Regions from separate parts of the Homo sapiens genome. Here region 1 is linked to region 2. The links come from fine-mapping of genetic effects on gene expression. A gene starts in region 2. The other region holds a variant in brackets. All regions are shown on one strand. Distances are between the middles of the regions. Region 1 has its middle 49 kb from the start of LINC02191. Region 2 holds the start of ZKSCAN2 (zinc finger with KRAB and SCAN domains 2).

Evidence for each region.
Region 1: its variant is fine-mapped to the expression of ZKSCAN2 in whole blood (INTERVAL, PIP above 0.99).

The regions. Positions count from the first base shown.
Region 1 is chr16:25,379,687-25,389,926 of GRCh38, forward strand. No RefSeq gene overlaps it. Among named protein-coding and RNA genes, the nearest start is that of LINC02191, 49 kb to the right of the region's middle. The variant C/T (reference allele first, on the strand shown) is at 5,269.
Region 2 is chr16:25,252,893-25,263,132 of GRCh38, forward strand. ZKSCAN2 (zinc finger with KRAB and SCAN domains 2) reads right to left here and starts at 4,953. Exons shown (of 7, transcript NM_001012981.5): 1 at 3,837-4,953; 2 at 2,314-2,500; 3 at 54-145. The coding sequence starts at 4,235. It overlaps ZKSCAN2-DT (ZKSCAN2 divergent transcript), which reads left to right and starts at 4,685. Exons shown (of 1, transcript NR_170220.1): 1 at 4,685-8,174. RefSeq lists enhancers at 4,319-4,879, 5,295-5,614, 5,735-5,814 and silencers at 4,565-4,804, 4,885-5,084.

The DNA of each region.
Region 1 (10,240 bases), 130 kb after region 2:
GCTCATGAGAGATGTGCAGGGGATAGGCCCCCAAATCTGGCCATAAACTGGCCCCCAAACTGGCCATAAACAAAATCTCTGCAGCACTGTGACATGTTCATGATGGCCATGATGCCCATGCTGAAGGTTGTGGGTTTACCAGAATGAGGGCAAGGAACACCTGGCCCACCCCAGGGCAGAAAACCACTTAAAGACATTCCTAAGCCACAAACAATAGCATGAGTGATCTGTGCCTTAAGGACGTGTTCATGCTGCAGATAACTAGCCAGAGCCCATCCCTTTATTTCCCGTTAGGAATACTTTTAGTGAACCTGTAATCTATAGAAACAATGCTTATCACTGGCTTGCTGTCAGTAAATATGTGGGTAAATCTCTGTTTGGGGCTCTCTGCTTTGAAGGCTGTGAGTCCCCTGATTTCCCACTCTACGTGCTATATTTCTGTGTGTGTGTGTCTTTAATACCTCTAGCACTGCTGGGTTAGGGTCTCCCCGACTGAGCTGGTCTCGGCAGAGATGGACAAACTGGCTTTGATAACATACCCACTCTTGTGACAACTAACCCACTTTCTCAATAACCCATTCATCCATCAATTCATAAATGGAGTAATTTATTCATGAGGGCAGAGCTCTTATGACCCAATCAATGCCCATAGGTTCCACCTCTCAACACCGCTACATTGAGGATCAAGTTTGCAACACATACATTTTGGGGGACATGCCCAAACCATAGCCCTGGGTCTACTCTGTCAGAAAAAACAAAACAAAACAAAACAAAACAAAAGGCTTTTCATGTGGCTGGAAATGAAAATGGCATGCTTTGAACTCTCAGCAAGAAATCAGACAATGGAATAATCTTTGCCCACATTTGCTGAAGAGCTCAAGACCCAGCCCTCATCCTTTGCTTTTGCTTTAGATAACTCACTTTCCCCAGGGTACCCTACTTATCACCCTGAGCTAATCATGAGTCTCTGATATTGCTCTTGGATAATCATATAATGTAATATGGTGTAGTATAATACAGTATAGCATAGCATGGCATAGTAGCTAAGAACATGGAAGCTGGAGCCAGACTGTCTGTGTTCAAATCCCAGCACTGCAGTTTACTGATTATATGATCCTCAGTGAGTTACTTGGTCTCTGTGACTCAGTTTTTTTTTTCAAACTCTAAATATGAATAATAATAGTACCTATATTGTAGTGTTGATGTGAAGATTAAAGGAGTTGACACAGTACTTGGCATATACGAAGTGCTATGTATTTTTTTTTTTTTTTTTGAGACAGAGTCTCACTCTGTCTTCCAGGCTGGAGTGCAGTAGCATGATCTCGGTTCACTGCAACCTCTGCCTCCCAGGTTCAAGTGATTCTCCTGCTTCAGCCTCCCAAGTAACTGGTATTACAGGCATGTGCCACTACACCTGGCTAATTTTTTGTATTTAGTAGAGACGGGGTTTCACCATGTTGGTCAGGTTAGTCTCGAACTCCTGACCTCAGGTGATCCACCTGCCTCAGCCACCCAAAATGCTGGGATTACAGGCATGTGCCACTGTGCCCAGCATACAAAGTGCTACGTAAATATTAGCTATTGTTATGCCTAAGGGACTTACCTGTGTGAAGATCGGCCTATAAGTCTCTGTGCTTTTTGGATTCCAAATCATGCTTCCTCAACCTGTGAAAAGCATAGATCAGCTGCCCTTTCTTGGGCCTGGCTCAGTGTTTGCATTAGAGAAAAGGGAAAAGTACATTCCAAAATCACCTACTATCATCTCAATTTCTAATAGGTTAGGAAAAAAAAAACCCAAATCGCCTACAGGCATCATGACAGATATCTCTTTGAAGATCCTAACAAGACCCCTGAGAGACAGATACTATTATTGCCAACAGAAATGCTAGCGTTTCTCTCAGCCACAAAATTATTTTTTTTAAATTTTTTAGAGAAAGGGCTTCACTCTGCTGCCCAGGCTAGAATGCAGTGGTATAATCATAGCTCACTGCAGCCTCAAACTCCAGAGCTCAAGCCATCCTCTTGCCTCAGCCTCCCAAGTAGCTGGGATCACAGGCATGTGCCACTATATTTGGCTAATTTATTTTTTGTAGAGATGGGATGTCAATATGTTGCCCAGGCTGATCTGAAATTCCTGGGCTCAAGTGATCCTCCTGCCTTGGCCTCCCAAAGTTCTGGGATTACAAGTGTAAGCCATTGTGCCAGCCCAGAACAACTATTAATATATCCAATATGCAAAGAACTCCCATGAGAAGAAACAAATAAACCACCTGACAGGAAAATGGGCAAAGGCAATGAGTGGACCCCTCACTGAAGAGGATATCCAAATGGCCAAAGGTTATCTCTAAGGATGCTCAAGGACATGCAAATTAAAGCTAAAATAAGATCCCTTTTTTTTTAATCCATTAGACTGGGAAAAAACTAAAAAGAGAAGCTATTTCAAGGTGACAAAAATGTGAGAAAATACTTTCATACGTTGCTGGTGGGAATATGAAATGTGACAACAAGGAATACTAGGAAAAACTTAAGTGTTAAGCTACACAAATGTGTTACCAAGCAATCTTACATTCAATAATCAGACTATGGCCGGGCACGACGGCTCATGCCTGTAATCTCAGCACTTTGGAAGGCTGAGGTGGGAGGATCACCTGAAGTTGGGAGTTCGACACCAGCCTGACCAACATGGAGAAACCCCATCTTTACTAAAAATACAAAATTAGCCGGGCATGGTGGCACATGACTGTAATCCCAGCTACTTGGGAGGCTGAGGCAGGAGAATCGCTTGAACCTGGGAGGCAAATGTTGCGGTGAGATCACGCCATTGCACTCCAGCCTGGGCAACAAGAGTGGAACTCCATGTCAAAAAAAAAAAAAAAATCGGGTTATATAAATTAGAGCATCTCTCTGTTAGAATATAATGTTCAACGTTGTTTCTTTGTGGAAAAATTGGAAACTAGCCTGAATGTTCATCAGTACAAGACTGATTGAATACGTGGGTCCACATATGGAATGTAGTGCAGTCATTAAAAACAGTAAGTAAAAATAAACTGTGGTACATCCCTTTTATGAAATACTACTCAGCAAAACTGAGTGAACTATTGGTACACACGACTTAGAGGAATCTCAAATGCATTATGTGGGACAACAGAAGCCAATTTCAAATATTGTGTGATTTCATTGATGTGACGTTCTTTTTTTTTTTTAAGATGGAGTCTCACTCTGTCACCCAGGCTAGAGTGCAGTGACATGATCTCGACTCATTGCAATCTCCGTCTCCCGGGTTCAAGTGATTCTCCTGCCTCAGCCTCCCAAGTAGCTGGAATTACAGGCACATGCCACCACACCCAGCTAATTTTTGTATTTTTAGTAGAGATGGGGTTTCACCATATTGGTCAGGCTGGTCTTGAACTCCTGACCTCAGGTGATCCACCTGCCTCAGTCTCCCAAAGTGCTGCTGACAGATCTGTCTTTGAAGATCCTAACAAGACCCCTGAGAGACAGATACTATTATCGCCAACAGAAATGCTAGCCTTTCTCTCAGCCACAAAATTATTTTTTTTTAATTTTTTAGAGAAAGGGCTTCACTCTGCTGCCCAGGCTAGAGTGCAGTGGTATAATCATAGCTCACTGCAGCCTCAAACTCCAGAGCTCAAGCCATCCTCTTGCCTCAGCCTCCCAAGTAGCTGGGATCACAGGCATGTGCCACTATACTTGGCTGATTTATTTGTTGTCTCCCAAAGTCTCAGTCTCCCAAAGTGCTGGGATTACAGGCGTGAGCCACCATGCCTGGCCGATGTGACATTCTTGAAATGACAAAACTATAATGTTGAAGAACAGATTAGTGGTTGTTGGGGCTTAGGGATGGAAGGAGGGTGTGACTACTGGATGTGAAGGAACTTTTTGGGGTGGTGGAAATGTACATGTTTATTGTGGTGGTGATCACGTGAATGCAGACATTGCTGAAATTCATAGAACTATACACTCCCAAAAGGTTGATTTTGCTGTGTAATAAGTATAAAACATGTTTAACGACATCAAAAATGAGTTATATCTATACCGATTGACTGGGCGGGGTCTCCTGATAATTTAGGATGAAAAAAGTTGTAAAACAAGGTGGATACCATGATCTTATTTTTGTGAAACCAACCAAAAATCCTTTCTATGTATGATTATGTGTTTGTGTATGTTTCCATGAGTATAAGAAAGAAGTGGAAAAACACTCTCTAGGCTGTTAATATTGGTTATCTCAGGAAGGCTGGAATGGAAGGGGAAGCATTAAGAAGTGTTTCTTTGTATATCTTTGCATTATTTCACTGGTTATATTGAGCAAATACTACATTTTTAATTAGAGCAAGAGAGCCAGATAAAATTAATAAAGGAAAATTAAAGAAGTCAGAGAAAATCAGAAGGAAGGCTAGTAAGAAAGAAGGCAAGAAAAGTCCAAGAGAGAACTGGTTGGTGGAAAAGTGGCAAAGAAGTGACCTTCAGGGTTCAGTGGGGTCTGTGAAGTACCCATTAAATCTCCAAATCAGAAAAATACGAGTGTTGGCCAGGCATGGTGGCTCACGCCTGTAATCCCAGCACTTCGGGAGACTGAGGCGGGTGGATCAACTGAGGTCAGGAGTTCAAGACCAGCCTGGCCAACATGATGAAACCCCGTCTCTACTAAAAATACAAAAATTAGCTGAGCCTGGTTTCAGGTGCCTGTAATCCCAGCTACTTGGGAGGCAGAGGCGGGAGAATTGCTTGAACCCAGAGGTGGAGGTTGCAGTGAGTCAAGATTGTGCCACTGCACTCTAGCCTGGGCGACAAGAATGAGACTCCGTCTCAATATGAGTGTTGCTGGAACTACAGGAACATTCTGCACCTGGAGCCAGGGACAAGCTGTGATTCAAGGGTTAAGACTTGGGCTCTGGTATGGTTTGGCAATATGTTCCCACCCAAATCTCATGTTGAATTGTAATTCCCAATGTTGGGGGAGGGACCTAGTGGGAGGTGATTGGATTGTGGGGGTGGAATTTCCCATGCTGTTCTCGTGATAGTGAGTGAGTTCTCACAAGATCTGATGGTTTGAAAGTGTATGACACTTCCTCCCTCACACTTTCTCTCCTGCCACCACATGAAGAAGGTGCTTGTTTCCCCTTCACCTTCCGCCATGACTGTAAGTTTCCTGAGGCCTCTCAGCCATGCTTCATGTTAAGCCCGTGGAACTGTGAGTCAATTAAACCTCTTTTCTTTATAAATTACCCAGTCTCAGGTAGTTCTTTA[C/T]AGCAGTGTGAGAACAGATTAATACAGGTTCATTTCTAGGGCTCAAGGCAGCTTTCATGGCTCTCCTTTGTTTTTTCTGCATGTTCGTTTGTTCACCTGTGCATCCATCATCCATCACCCATCTACCTTTTGTTAAATGCCTACTGTGTTCTTAATTTTAAAACTTATGCTTCGTGTTTCCTCTGAATCATAATAAAATCCAAAATAAAATCCAGTGTTGTGTGCTGGTCTTTAGAGGCTACAATAAATGAAGACACTGGGATCCTTTACTAAGATTTTATTTCTTTTTTAAAAAAATGTTTTCAACTTTTATTTTAGATTCAGTGGGTACATGTGCAGGTTTGTTACCTAGGTATATTGCATGATGCTGAGGTTGGGAGTATGAATGATCCCGTTACCCAGGTAGTGAGCATAGTACCCACCAGTTAGTTTTTCAATGCTTGCCCCTCACTGCTTCCCCACTTTAGTAGTCCCCAGCGTCTATTGTTGTCATCTTTATGTCTGTAAGTACTCAATGTTTACCTCCTTCTTCTAAGTGGGATTTGGTTTTCTGTTCCTGTGTTAATTTGCACAGGATAATGGCCCCCAGCTGCATCCACGTTGCTGCAAAGGATGTGATTTCATTCTTTTTTATGGCTGTATTGTATTCCATGGAGTATATGTGCATATTTTCCTTATTGAATCCACTGTTGATGGGCACCTAGGTTGATTCCATGTCTCTAGTATTGTGAATAGTGCGGAAATGACCATATGAGTGCATGTGTCTTTTTGGTAGAACAATTTATTTTCTTTTGGATACATACCTGGCAATGAGATTGCTGGGTTGAATGGTAGTTATGTTTTAGGTTCAGATTTTATTTCTGAGATTAAGCTTCATGGACCATTCCTCCTGGAGTATGTGGCGGTGGCAACTCTACATAGGGGAAACCTGTATGCACTCAGTCTTCAGAGCCTCTGAAATAGACATTTGGGAACCTCAGGATTTGGTGATAGACCTTGCAATGGGTCACTCTGTTACCTTGGGAGTGTCCAGGGCATCTTCTCCCAATTTCCTGTTGTGATTGATTAGAGAGATGTTCCCCATACTATCAGAACAGGTTTTTTTTAAATTATACTTTAAGTTCTGGCATACATGTGCAGAGCGTGCAGGTTTGTTACATAGGTATGCAAGTGCCATGGTGGTTTGCTGCACGCATTAACCCGTCATCTACATTAGATATTTCTCCAAATGCTATCCCTCCCCTAGCCCCCCACCCGCCAACAGGCCCCGGTGTGTGATGTTCCCCTCCCTGTGTCCATGTGTTCTCATTGTTCAACTCCCACTTATGAGTGAGAACATGAGGTGTTTGGTTTTCTGTTCCTGTATTAGTTTGCTGAGAATGATGGTTTCCAGCTTCATCCATGTCCCTGCAAAGGACATGAACTCATCCTTTTTTATGGCTGCATAGTATTCCATGGTGTATATGTGTCACATTTTCTTTATTCAGTCTATCATTGATGCACATTTGGGTTGGTTCCAAGTCTTTGCTATTGTGAAAAGTGCTGCAATAAACATATGTGTGCATATCTTTATAGTAGAATGATTTACAATCCTTTGGGTATATACCCAGTAATGGGATTGCTGGGTCAAATGATATTTTTGATTCTAGATCCTTGAGAAATCGCCACACTGTCTTCTACAATGGTTGAACGAATTTACACTCCCACCAACAGTGTAAAAGTGTTCCTATTTCTCCACATCCTCTCCAGCATCTAGAACAGGGTTCTTAAGTCAAACTACCTGAGCCCAAATCCTAGCTAAGTCACTTACTGACTGTGTGCCCTTGGGCAAGTTTAATGCTATGTCTGGGGTTCTCAGTTTCCTCATCTGTAAACAGTGCATGAAGAGTAAATGTGTTAATAGATGAAAAGCCCTTGAAACACTGTCTGCTCAAAATACGCTTTATGATCAGTATTCTCACTGTAGTTGCTGATAATTAAGTGGCAATGAGTTGCATTGACTAGATGCATAATACAATAATCCATTGGATTGTGTTGAATAACAGAAGACAATGAACATAAAACATAATAACATTTATGTTACAACTATATGTGTTTGTATATATGTGTGTTTGTGTGTGTGTAAGTATATTTTTCCAAGTTTGTATGTATGTACATATGTAAATTTGACAAGACATTGAGAAAAGTCTGAAAGAACATACCCCAGACCATAACATCTCAGAAGGGTGGATTTGGGAGAGGATTAAATGGGAATTTACTTATTATTTTATGCTCTTCCATATTGTCCAAAAATTTATCATCAATATTATTGTTTTTGTAATTTAAAAAGAAAAATAAATGAAAAGAATCAAACAATTTTAAAATGGAGATAAACAAATCAAAGAATCTCTTTTCATCTTCTATACAGAAAAATTACTATTTTTCAGAGTCATTCGTTGTATGAGGTTCTCAAAGGCAGCCATAAAAAGGATATATATATATATATATTTTTTCCAATATTAAGGCAATTTCTGGGATTGTTGATCCTTATGTGAAGTTGAGATGTATCTGATATAGATCCATGAGGTCAGTCTAATAAATCACTTTGCTGGTTGCTGCATTTGAAATTCAAAGCCCGGAGATACAACTCTCCATGTCTAGGGCTCCCCAGGTGCCACTCATCCTGATCCCCCTTGCCCACAGCCTTGATGGGCTGGACTCACAGAATTTGGAGCTGCACATTTCTCTAAATAATCTCACCCTCTTCTTCCTAAAAAAAAATTTTTTTGAGACAGCGTCCCACTCTGTGAGTGTGGTGGCATGATCATGGCTCACTACACCTTCCACCTCCCGGGCTCAAGCAATCCTCCCATCTCAGCCTCCTGAGTAGCTGGGACTACAGGCATGTGCCACCATACCCAGCTAATTTTTTGATTTTTGTAGAGACAGGGTTTCGCTGTGTTGCCCAGGCTGGTCTTGAACTCTTGGGCTCAAGCGATCCTCCCATCTCAGCCTCCTAAAGTGCTAAGATTGCAGGTCTAAGCCACCATGCCTGGCCCCTGTTCTTTAAATATGCTCCTCCAAGTTAGTCTACCTGAAGTACCCAGAGAGAGCTTATTGCTATGGAGAACATAGTCAGAAGTCTGCTTTGGTCCTGTTGGAAAGCTATAAAACATTTATCATTGTGGACCAAGCAGATGATATAAAAGACCAGGGTAGCTACAGTGATGACAGGCAGATTCTCAGGCAAGACTGACTCAAAGTGTCTGAAACTATTTTATCCATTCCCTTAGAAATGGGATCTCTTTAGGGACAGACTCACATTGTCTAGACACACTGAGTCTAATTTACAAACCAAATTTGCACTATTACAAGGAGGGAAGATAAACCACTGCAGTGACAAGAAGTCTCAGGTCTAATCCTTAGGACACCCTTCCAGTAATTAAGGCACCTGGAAAATGGGAAAAGATGTGGAATGGATGATTGGAGGAGACTCAATTTGGGAACCATGTAACTTTGGAATTACCATCAGCTGTGTGACTGCAGACCTTTGGTAAAATTCTCTGAAGCGTTTATCATCTGAATAATAGAGATAATAGTACAACTTTAAAGTGGATTTTTAGAAATAAACTGAGACTTGCAAGCAGAGTCTTACTGGGGAGACATACTTGTAAGAAAGTGAGAATTGTAGAAGGGATAAACTGACCTGCAATGTGGCTGTAACTGAGATCTCTGGAACTTGGATAGGGACTTCAGAGTTGGGATAACCCTTCAAGTTGTCTCAAATTGGGAGAGAAGGGCTGAGCCTTTGAACCTTTACATTAATCAATCTGTGGCCATATACCATGCCGAGGGTGTATGACCTTGGATGATGTCATTCCATATAACTGAGGGCAGTTTTTAGTGAGAGGTACAGCTGTGGGCTTCTAACAGCCTCTATTCCCAGCAGTTAGAGTGCATTGGTTTTGAAGAGGGGATCTTGACAGCATTTCCCAGTGTCCACTATAAGTCTATACTTTATAAGTTTGTAGGGATTATACAAGTACTTAGCGTAATGCCAGCTACACTGCATAATATCTAAAAATACTAGTTCTTTTTCCTTCTCCTTAGAAAAATATTTCTCAATCACTTTGGAAGGGTATGGGAGATGTTTTATTCTGTTCTATTTTACTTACTTACTTATTTATTTATTTATTTTTTTTTTGAGATGGATTCTCGCTCTGTCACCCAGGCTGGAGTGCAATGGTGTGATCTCGGCTCACTGCAACCTCTGCCTCCCAGGTTCAAGCAATTCTCCTGCCTCAGCCTCCCAAGTAGCTGGGACTACAGGTGCCCGCCACCACGCCCAGCTAATTTTTCTATTTTTAGTAGAGACGGGGTTTCCCCATATTGGTCAGGCTTGTCTCGAACTCCTGACCTCAGATGATCCACCTGCCTTGGCCTCCCAAAGTACTGGGTTGTTTATTAATTTTTGCAGCAGAGAAAGAAGTTTAGTCATAAGGATGTTGAATGAGGAGACAGGAGGAAATCTCAAATCCACCTCTCTGAGGAGTGTGGGACCTGGGATTTTAAGGAGTTTGGAGTAGGCTGAGGTTGGCAGGTGGATCATTGGTTGAAGAATGCAGGGTGAAGTCGCAGGATGAGGAGATGAAGAAACTGCATTTTCATGCTGATTCAGTTCCTTTGTGGGGCTCTTCAAACTGACTGACATTAGCCCTTCTGCTGGAATTCAGGACCTGTGTCACTGAAAGTAGACCCACAGAGCTGCAGTTTCTGCTGCCATTTCCTCCTCTGATGTCCAAGAGGCCAGAGTCCTCCTCTTCTTTGCCATGTTTCTGGAGCTTACAGGTGAGCGCAGGGCCAGTGAAGGTTTCTGCTTTAAGGTCATCTCCTGCTGCTCATTAGTGATGCTGCTCTTCATCTCTCCTGTTCCATTTTAAACCAAACGTTTTCAGTGGACAAAACCACTACATCTACCATAAATATTTCTTTG
Region 2 (10,240 bases):
GGGTGACAGAGTGAGACTCCATCTCAAAGAAAAAAAAGACAATTACAATGTACCTGGGACCCAGCAGGAAGCCGTGTGGTTGTCACTTCCTGATCTAGGGTATTCCATTCATCAGCAAGGGCAGGAACCCAGGGAGAAGGCCGAGCTGTAAGAATAGAAAGAAACGATTAGTAATCTGGGCTTTGACCCTTTAATTCATGCTGTCTCTCTTTTTAAGAGATGAGTATGTATTGAAACACCAACAAATATAAATTCACCATTTTATCTGTGAGTTCAGAACAATCCCCAAAAACACAGTACCCTAAAGCTGGGATCACAGCCTCAAATGCTTTCCGGGGGTAAGCAAGTAAATACAGGATGAAGGGGACCAGGTAAGGACTGTGGGAACTGGAGAGCACACATCTGATTGAAAGGGCACTGCCAATGCCAATGCTCAGGTCCCGCTCATGTCTCAGTGTGAGACTATGGCTGTGGTACCTTCCCTCCTTCCCTACCCCCTTTCCCTTCCCCAGCCTTCCTTTCCCCCTCCCTTCCCTTTTCTCCCTTCCTCTCTCTCTCTCTCTCTCTCTCTCTGTCTCTCTCAATCATGGACATTTGCAATGCATTCCATCATAATATAAATTTGGGGAGGCATAAAACAGTATAGTAGTACTGAATCTTGCCTCTCAGTGAAGGGCTGGGTAAATCAGACAGACTTGAGGTTTAAAAATAATTGTGCCATTCTGGGGGAAAGGAAACTAGCATTTATTGAGCACTATTATGCACTGGCTCCTTCATGCTGCCGCATTTAATCTGCACAAATAGCCTTGCTATTTCCCTCTTAAAGATGAGAGGACTGGGTGTGGTGGCTCACGCCTGTAATCCCAGCACTTTGGGAGGCCAAGGCGGGCAGATCACCTAACGTGAGGAGTTCAAGACCAGCCTGGTCAACATGGTGAAACCCCATCTCTACTAAAAATACAAAAATTAGCCAGGCATGATGGCACACGCCTGTAATCCCAGCTACTCGAGAGACTGAGGCACGAGAATTGCTGGAACCTGGGAGGCGGAGGTTGCTGTGAGCTGAGATCGTGCCACTGCACGCTAACCTGGAACAAGACTCCACCTCAAAGAAAAAATAAAATAAAATAAAATAAAATAAAGATGAGAGAATGGAAAGCTTGAGAAGTTAAGTATCCTGACCAAGGCCACATAGATAAAAAAATGGCAGAGCTAGGTTTTGAATCTAGGTCTGTCTGTCTCTAAAGCCTAAGCTCTTAGCCTCTGTGCATTCATGCGTCTTTTCATATTATTTGCCCAAGATCACAGACAGAAGGTGGCAGAGACAAGATATAAACAGAAGACTTCTGACGGCAGGTTTAGTGATGTTTCCATTCCTCTCTTTAAGACTGAGATGAAGCCACACTTCAGGAGATGGAGAGATCACTGTGGACTGGGAAGGACAGGGTATTCATTTCCTAGCATTTGACCTGAGTCATTAATGTGCAGGGCAGCTATGAATGTCAGTGGTCCCTTCCCTGTGAAATCTTAACTGTTTATCTCTCTTGTATGCCACTTCTGTGATGGCCTGTGAGTCAAACTTTGAACACAAATGCCTTGTTCCCTTTCAAACAGCTTTTTGACTTATTTATAGTCAGCCAAGAGCACATACACATGGCAGGACTGAAAAACACATGATGATTGTAGAATGTAGATCTTATTTTATTTTTTTGTAGAGAAAATGTGTTTGTCTCGCTATCTTGCCCAGGCTGGTCTTGAACTCCTGGCTTCAAGAGATCCGCCTGCCTCGGCCTCCCAAAGTGTTGGGATTACGACGTGAGTCACTGTGTCCAGCCATGGAGAGTTTACCACCACAGGATCTCATAGCTGGCCCAGGCAATCTAAGTTTCCCCAGTTTGGATCTTTTTTTTTTTTTTTTTGAGACAGGGTCTCGCTCTGTCACCCAGGCTGGAATACAGTGGTGTGATCACGGCTTACTGCAGCCTCAACCTCCTGGGTTCAAGCAATCCTCCTGACTCAGCCTCCTGAGTAGCTGAGACCACAGGTGCACGCCAACACACCTGGCTAATATTTTTTTTTTTTTTGCGATTTTGTAGAGACTGGGTTTTCCCATGTTGCCCAGACTCAGTTTCCATCTTTATGATACCTTTTCACTTATATTGCACATGTTCCTAATTCTTGAAGTGAATGAAACCTTTCTCCTATTCTGAATATGTATCAAGGAGGCCCTCCACTGCACATTCACAGCGTTGGGGTACTGCGGAAATCTGCCCCAGCCTCTGCACTAGGCGTGCTCCGAGTCTTCCCTCTTACCATTCTTGGGTAAGGGCCGACGTTCTCGCTTTCGGTTCAGCTGTTCCTGGTGTCCTGAGTGGAGGCTTCCAGGTTCCTCCCGAGACACCGCCCTGGGTTGGGTCTCCACCTGCTCTGGCTGGAAGTCTGCCACCTCCCACGCTGCTCCAAGTGGGGAGTGCTTCTCCCGGTGCACGGGACTGCTGACCTGAGAAATGAAGTCAATACCATAAGAGGGAGTAAAACAGGCCCATATCAGGGCGAAATTCTCCCAGGAAAGACATCAAAGAAGGACAGAGACATGAGAAGGAATGAAAATTCCACTCCATTCCCAGTGGAGTCTCTGAGAGCGCTGGGCTGAGAGTACTGTCCAGCAGTCTGGGTGTAAGGTAACAGAACAGTGTTCTTTTTTCTGAGACAGAGTTTCACTTTTGTTGCCCAGGCTGGAGTGCAATGGCACGATCTTGGCTCACTGCAACCTCCACCTCCCAGGTTCAAGCGATTCTCCTCTCTCAGCCTCCCAAGTAGCTGGGATTACAGGCATGCACCAACACAACCGGCTAATTTTATATTTTTTTAGTAGAGATGGGGTTTCATTATGTTGGTCAGGCTGGTCTCGAATTCCTGACCTCAGGTGATCAACATGCCTCGGCCTCCCAAAGTGCTGGGATTACAGATGTGAGCCACCGCGCCTGGCCAGAATAATATTTAATACTAAACAGAGAAGGAAATCTGTCAGGAGTGAAAGAGCCTCCTTGTTGCTAGAATAGATATTATTTGACTCTATATCTGTTACGTTCGCAAAGAAGTTACCAGGACATGAATATATACAGTAGTGAAATGAAAACTTACAAAATTAATATCCACATCTATCTGTCTATCCCTGACCAATACAGCAACCTGCTGATAGATCTCTACACAATGCAAGTCTGATGCAAGGTGAAACCGCAAATCTTGCAAATGCTGCAGGATTTCACGAGGTTCATGAAAGTGAGGTTGAAGAACAACTAGAAGAGCATGCAAGCCACTGAGAAATGAAGATGTGGCAGTTAGACTGGAGGAGAGTGACAGAAATGAAGGCATGAGAGCACTTCAGAAGACACTGAGTGCAACAGTAAAACGCTTGGAGACGGCTCTGGGATAACGGATGAAGTCTTTTTTTTTTTTTTTTAAAGGGGGAACAGAATAGCCTTTTTTGATCAAAATGCGTAAGTGAACCTCTGTGACGCAAAACCATATTGTTCTCTTATATTGTTTTGTTGCAAACATTATGCCAAAGATGACGATAAATGCTTAGGTGAATAATGTCTGGTTTCCATTGTAAGATAATATTTCAATCAAAGCTTTTATTTTTCTATTTCATGTGAAATTCTGATCCCCTTTTAAGTGGATTCACTTAAAGTGAAAAGACCCCCTTATAGGGTCTTTTATTAGTACCATTTATCTTTCTCTGAAGAGCACGTCTTTCTGCAATACATCCCTGCCCACATGCCTTTCCCATTCCCTTTTTTCTAAGTACAAAAATTTGGAAAATCCTCTCTCACCTGCTGTCTTAGTCTTCCAGTCTCTTTCTCCAAATGCACTACCAGGGCCACCGCTTCCTCTCCACTTTGCGGACACTGCTTCTGTGCCCAAGCCTGAATCTTCTCGGGTAAAATGGTGAGAAACTGCTCAATCACCAGCAGCTCAAGTATTTGCTCCTTGGAACGCATTTCTGGCTTCAGCCACCGGCAGCAAAGTTCCCAGAGTTTACTGAAAGCTTCATGGGGTCCAGTCACATCCTCATAACAGAATTGCCTGAAGCATTTGCGGAAGGTCTCAGAGCTATCCGATCCTTCCAGAATGGGCTCTGATGCCCACTCAGGGTCCTTTTCCACCTTCATTATTAGGCATCCCTCAACCTCCAGGGGCGCGTCGATCTGAGAGTCGAGGGCGACAGCCATGCTGCAGCCCAGGGGTCAACTTCACGTCTAGCTCAAGGTGGGGACCCAAAGAAGACTCCAAGCGCTCCCTGCTTAATGTTCCTGGGAGTGTGATAAGGTACGGAGGTAAAAACGGCCAGGTCGGCAGGAACAGGGTATTCCAGGCTGATTAATCAAATCTATGCCAGGCCCTTGAAAAGGTGAACGTATACTCTAAGATGCAAAAGCCTGGCCTCTTCTCCAAACAAGATGTGACCGCGCAATGTGGTTTTCCAGAGTGCATCCCTCTTAGTGCAAAGTCGGAAACCGGGAGGCTGGACGACTGGGAGAAAAATGAAGCAGGCTGAGGAAAGGCTGGGCGGAGGCGGACAGCCGGGCCGGGAGGGGGTGTGTCCGCTACTCCCGGGTCGGGCGCGGAGAGGCGAGTCCCCGAGTGGGTGGGGCCGGATGTGCAGGCCCCGCCCGGCGCCAGGTTCCGGGCTCGGGTCACCGCAGCACGTCCAGGCCGCCGCGGGTGCCGCTGGGGCCGCCGGATTCCGAGAGCGGCGCCGGGCTCTTTCGGGCCCACGACGGCCCCGACCGTCCTGAGGAAACCGCTGCCGCCGAGGAAAGGCCGCAAAAACTGTTCCGCCCGGAAGGGAGAAGAGCTGCGGGGCGAAGCCAGGGCTCGCAGGGGGCAGCGGCAGGCTGCTCGCGTTCGGCCTCGTCCACTCGGCCCGCGGAGAGCGCGGGGGGCGCTGGGAACCGCAGTCACGCATGCGCCGCCTGCCACCGAGCGCCGCGGGGCCCGCGCGAGGCGTCCTGGCGGGCGAGGGGCTGGGGGAGGGGGGGGGGGCCGTGCGGTGGACTCTCGCGAGAGCGCGCGGCGCGGTGACTCGTCGCTGAGGGACTTTAAGATTGTAGAGGGGCGCGGAGGGTCCTCCCCGGGGCGGAGGGACACAGAGGGATTCTAGGGAACCTGCCGTCGCGAGTCCCGCTTCAGGCGGAGAATCTAGGCGGCGGCGGGGCCTCCCTGAGGCGGAGGAGTCGGCACCGGGGCCTGGCTGCCGGGGAAGGAGAGCACGGGAGCGGGGACTCCTGTGTCTGGCGGAGGGACACGGCGTTCCGGTGGAGGGATCTGTTCCTTGTACCTGGTCCAGGGTTGCGGTCGGGGATGGAGCGGTTACCCCGACCCTGCGGGACCTTCTTCCTCTGGCGGAGGTGCACGGCGCGGCGTGGTGTTTTTCTGGCGGAAGTATCTGTGCGTGGCCCCAGGCCCTTCCCGGCGCGGTCTCATCTGGGGCCACTTGTTGGCCCTCGCGTTGGGGAGGTTCATGTGGTGCATCCTGATGAGAAGGGGGGTCACAGGGGTCTCGGGGCCAGGGTTCAGCCAGCCAGGCCCCAGCTTGCTCTCTTCTGGTGCTGCCCCTGTCCCTGAATTCATAGACCCGGCTTTCCCTCTCTTGAGCACCTACTATGTGCCAGGCTGCGCTTTGCGCATGTAGCAGAGGCAACAGTGTCACCTGGGAAGCTGGTTTCCCCCAAAGGAACTCTTGTCTGTCCGTTGTTGCAGAGCCAGCGCATGAGACCAAGTGTGAGTATCAGGCAGTGCAGCCTTCATTCAGTGGCCATGGAATTGGAGAAGTGGGAGGGTAGCTCGCAAATCAAGCTCTCAGCTCTTGGAAACTGAGAAGTTACAGGTAATAGGGAGTGTTGACGAAAAGTAAAACCGTGCAAAATATTTGAAGAGATTTATTGTGAGCCAAATACGAGTAACCACAGCCTGTGATACAGCCCTCTCGAGGCCCTGAGAACATGTGCCCAAGGTGGTCGGGGTGCAGCTTGGTTTTATGTTTTAGGTTGGCATGAGACATCAGTCAAATACATTAAATACATTGGTTTGGTCCAGGAAGGCGGGACAACGCAAAGGGGTGGGGGTGGGGGCTTCCAGGCTATAGGTAAATTTAAATATTTTCTAGTTGACAATTGGTTGAGTTTGTCTGAAGACCTGGGATTGATAGAAAGGAAGTGTTCAGGTTAAGATAAAAGATAGTGGAGACTAAGGTTCTTTTGAAGTCTTATGGTGGCTGCTCTTAGAGATAATAGATGACAAATGTTTCCTATTCAGATCTTCAAAAGGTGTTAGACTTTTAGTTAATCCGTTTAGGATTGGGAGGGCCTGGAAGAAAAACATCTAGCTATGTTAATAGATGTTCTTTACAGATGCACATTTTACCCCACAAAGGATAGCTTTTGGGGGAAAATGCTGTCCTTTATGGAAGAAATTGCAAAATAGGGCAAGGAAACATGTTTTGGGGTAAAATATTTTGACTTTCTTTTTGTCACGTAATGTTATGCCAGAGTCAGAATGGAAAGTAAGTCATCATATATAGGATTAAATAAAACCCATCTGATGAGAATTTATGGTTTGTAGGTCATGACTCCCCAGATCCCTTAGATAGGAATTTGGGCAGGATTAAAAAAATCAAGAGTTTAGGCTGGTCGTGGTGGCTCACGCCTATAATCCCAGCATTTTGGGAGGCCAAGGCAGGTGGATCGCTTGAGGTCAGAAGTTTAAGACCAGCCTGGCCAACATGGCGAAACCCCGTCTCTACTAAAAATACAAAAATTAGCTGGGCATGGTGGCACACGCCTGTGATTCTAGCTGATTGGGAGGCTGAGGCATGAGACTCAACTTGAACCCGGGAGGCGGAGGTTGCAATGAGCTGAGATTGTGCCACTGCACTCCAGCTTGGTTGACAAAGTGAGACTCTGTGTCAAAAACAAAACAAAACAGAAAAAAAAAACAAAAGAATCAGAGCTTAGTCGTCAGGTGTCCTTAATGAAGGGGCTGGGCATTAAGAGCAAGGCGAGGAGGCAGAAGGAAAGCTTGAGCCCAGGAATTGGAGACCAGCTTGGGCAACATGGTAAGACCCTGTCTCTAAAAAAAATAAAAATTAAGAACAAGAGGAGGAATATTCATGTTTTTTCTTGGGAAGGGAGGTAGATTTTCCTGGAATCAAGGAGCTGCCCCTTTTTTTGTCCTTTTTTTGGTCTCTTCGGGTCATCACGGTGATTGTCAACTGTCATGGCAACCAGTGGGAATGTCATTTAGTACTGAAGTTGGATTAGAATGAAGCTAGAGGTTCTTCAGAGGTCGAGTAAGCTAAGAAGGAACCTATGACCACAGACAACCTGTTTTCTAAAAATAAGCAGAGTTAAATCTGAGTAGGAATTTAGCTATGTCATGGAGGCATTGCATTGGGTAACAAAAGCCAGGTAGGCGTCCAGCTAAGTCCCCTAGGCCCTGCAACGGGTAACAGCAGTACTGACTCTATGTTAGAGAAAAGCTTGCTTGCTTGAGTATAATTATTGTTTTGCCTGAGTTTGTAAACTATTCACTAAAAACAGCCACAGAAAAAAACAGGACCTTCTTCAACAGATAAAACACACAGACCCGCAGCTTTGGGAACAGGCTGATGGCCCCTGCACAGTCTAGTCACAAGGCATTGACCAAGAAAGTAATGACTAACTGCCCATCTGAGACTGCGCATGATTCACAAGAATGTTTCTTTGTTTTGTTTTTTGAGACAGTCTTGGTCTGTCTCCCAGGCTGGAGTGCAGTGATGTTGGTTCGCTGTAGCCTCTGCCTCCTGAGTAGCTGGGACTACAGGCGTGTGCCACCGCACCTGGCTAATTTTTGTATTTTTAGTAGAGATGATGTTTGACTATGTTGGCCAGGATGGTCTCGAACTCCTGACCTCAAGTGATCCACCTGCCTCGGCCTCCCAAATTGCTGGGGTTACAAGTATGAGCCACCGCTCCTGGCCCACAAGAATGTTTTGATCATTATTTCTCCTAATTTTCCTTAAAATCCCTGGATCTAGAGGCACAACTGAGAAAGGTGGTCTTTGAATGCTAGTGCACTGCCTTTTGCAGGTTGCTGGTTTCTCGAATAAAGCTAACTTTGCTTTCACCAAAGCTTGTCTTTTGAGTTTTTGGCTTTCAGGCGACGAGTGGCCTGGACACCAGTTCGGCTACATGTATGTCAGTGGGCAAAACAAAAATCCTTATTCTGGGAGGTAGATAGCTTATTAGAAAACACAACCTAATCACTTGTTTCCCAAATGTTAAAAATTGAGCCAATTTTAGCCCCAGAAGCTTAGGGTACCATGTACATAACAGGCATTACCTGAGGGTGGGGCAGAGAGAATCAGTGGGGTACCTCGTATATGCCAGGGGTTGTATCAGCATCCTTACACAGCTCATTTTTCTTTTTAAATAATACTTATTGAGGACCTATTTAATGCCAGATATGGTGGTAGGTAGGGAGCAAAAGCAGGATTCCCCTCCCATTATTGAGTTTTCAGTCTGGTGGGAGAGGCAGGAATTAAATAAGTAATCCACAAACTCAAGTACAATTCTAAGGGAGATGGGTGCCACCAAGAAGAGACATGGTGCTGAGAACCTATGTCTGTCAGAGGGATTTGATCTATTTGGGAGGTCTGGAAAGGTTTTTTTGAAGAAGCAGTGCTAGGGGTGAGATCCAAAGGAGAAGAGCTAATTAGGCAAAGCCTAGTCCTCACAAAAATCCTATAAACCAGATATGATTACCTTCATTTTAGAGTTTAGGGCATTGAGACTTGAGCAAGGTGATGTCACTGCCCAAGGTTACATCAGATTAAATGGCAACCCAGGATTCAGATTCAAATAAGAGTAGGGTTCTTTATATTCTCCTTGGGCTATTTGGTGGTTTTAGGAGAGGCAAGTATCACAAACAGCTTGGGGACATGAGGGAGCAGGAATCACAAACTTGAAAGCCTGCAGAGCTCAGGCAGATAGCATAGAGTGAAGTAGGGCAGAGTGTAAGACAATAGGGGATGGTGGGGAGTGTGGTGAGCTGAAGGCCACATTTCCTGTCTAAAGGAAGCAGCCACTAGTTCCAGTCTCTTGTTGCCATGCAGGATTACAGACCAAGCCCTGCTGGATCTTCTGATGATATTATTTTGAGGGCTTGGCGCGGTGGCTCACGCCTGTAATTGCAGCACTTAGGGAGGCCGAGGTGGGCAGATCACAAGGTCAGGAGATCGAGACCATCCTGGCTAACATGGCGAAACCCTGTCTCTACTAAAAATACAAAAAATTAGCTGGGCGTGGTGGTGGGCGCCTGTAGTCCCAGCTACTCTGGAGGCTGAGGCAGGAGAATAGCGTGAACCCGGGAGGTGGAGCTTGCAGTGAGCCGAGATCGCGCTACTGCACTCTAGCCTGGGCAACAGAGCGAGACTCCTTCTCAAAAAACAGGCTAGAGTGCAGTGGTGCAATCATAGCCCACTGCAGCTGGGACTGCAGACACATGCCACTACCCGGCTAATTTTTATATATTTTTTTCAGAGACAGGGTCTCACTATGTTGCCCAGGCTGGTCTGAAACTCCTGAGCTCAAGTGATCAGCCTGCCTTGACCTCCCGAAGTGCTGGAATTACAGGCGTGAGCCCCTGCGCCCGGCCTAGATCTTCTGATTTCTAAAAAGAAGCTGGCAGTATTTTTAGGTGAAGTTATCACACTTCTAAATAATTGGCAGTTACATGAGTTTGCCTCACTATAATGTTAACTCAGTGAAGCAGGACATTTTATGTTTTTAACCACTGTGTACTGGGAGCTTATAAAGTGCCTTACGCATAGTAAGCACTCAACCTCATCTGTGGTATGTAGCCTCTGAGCGATTCCTCCCTTGTGCGCATGGTTTCACAGTTTTTGAAGCAGTTTTATGGTCATTATTTTATCCACCAGTTTTTCAGCTGGCACCTCATTTGTCCTGATGCGGCTGCTGCAGGAAAAGTCCCCGGAAAGGCTCCCCAGGGAAATATTTAGTTGTGCCTTCCTTTTGTACCTTTCCGCCCTCTTTGTATTTTACATTTTCTCCATCCTAATGTGCCTGGCATTATACCTTGGCTCCCTCTAGTTATCCAGCCCATTTTATATTTAATATTTTGTTGTTGCTTTGGTTCTCACCTAGACTTTATGTATTGACCTGGGGCCCATGACCAC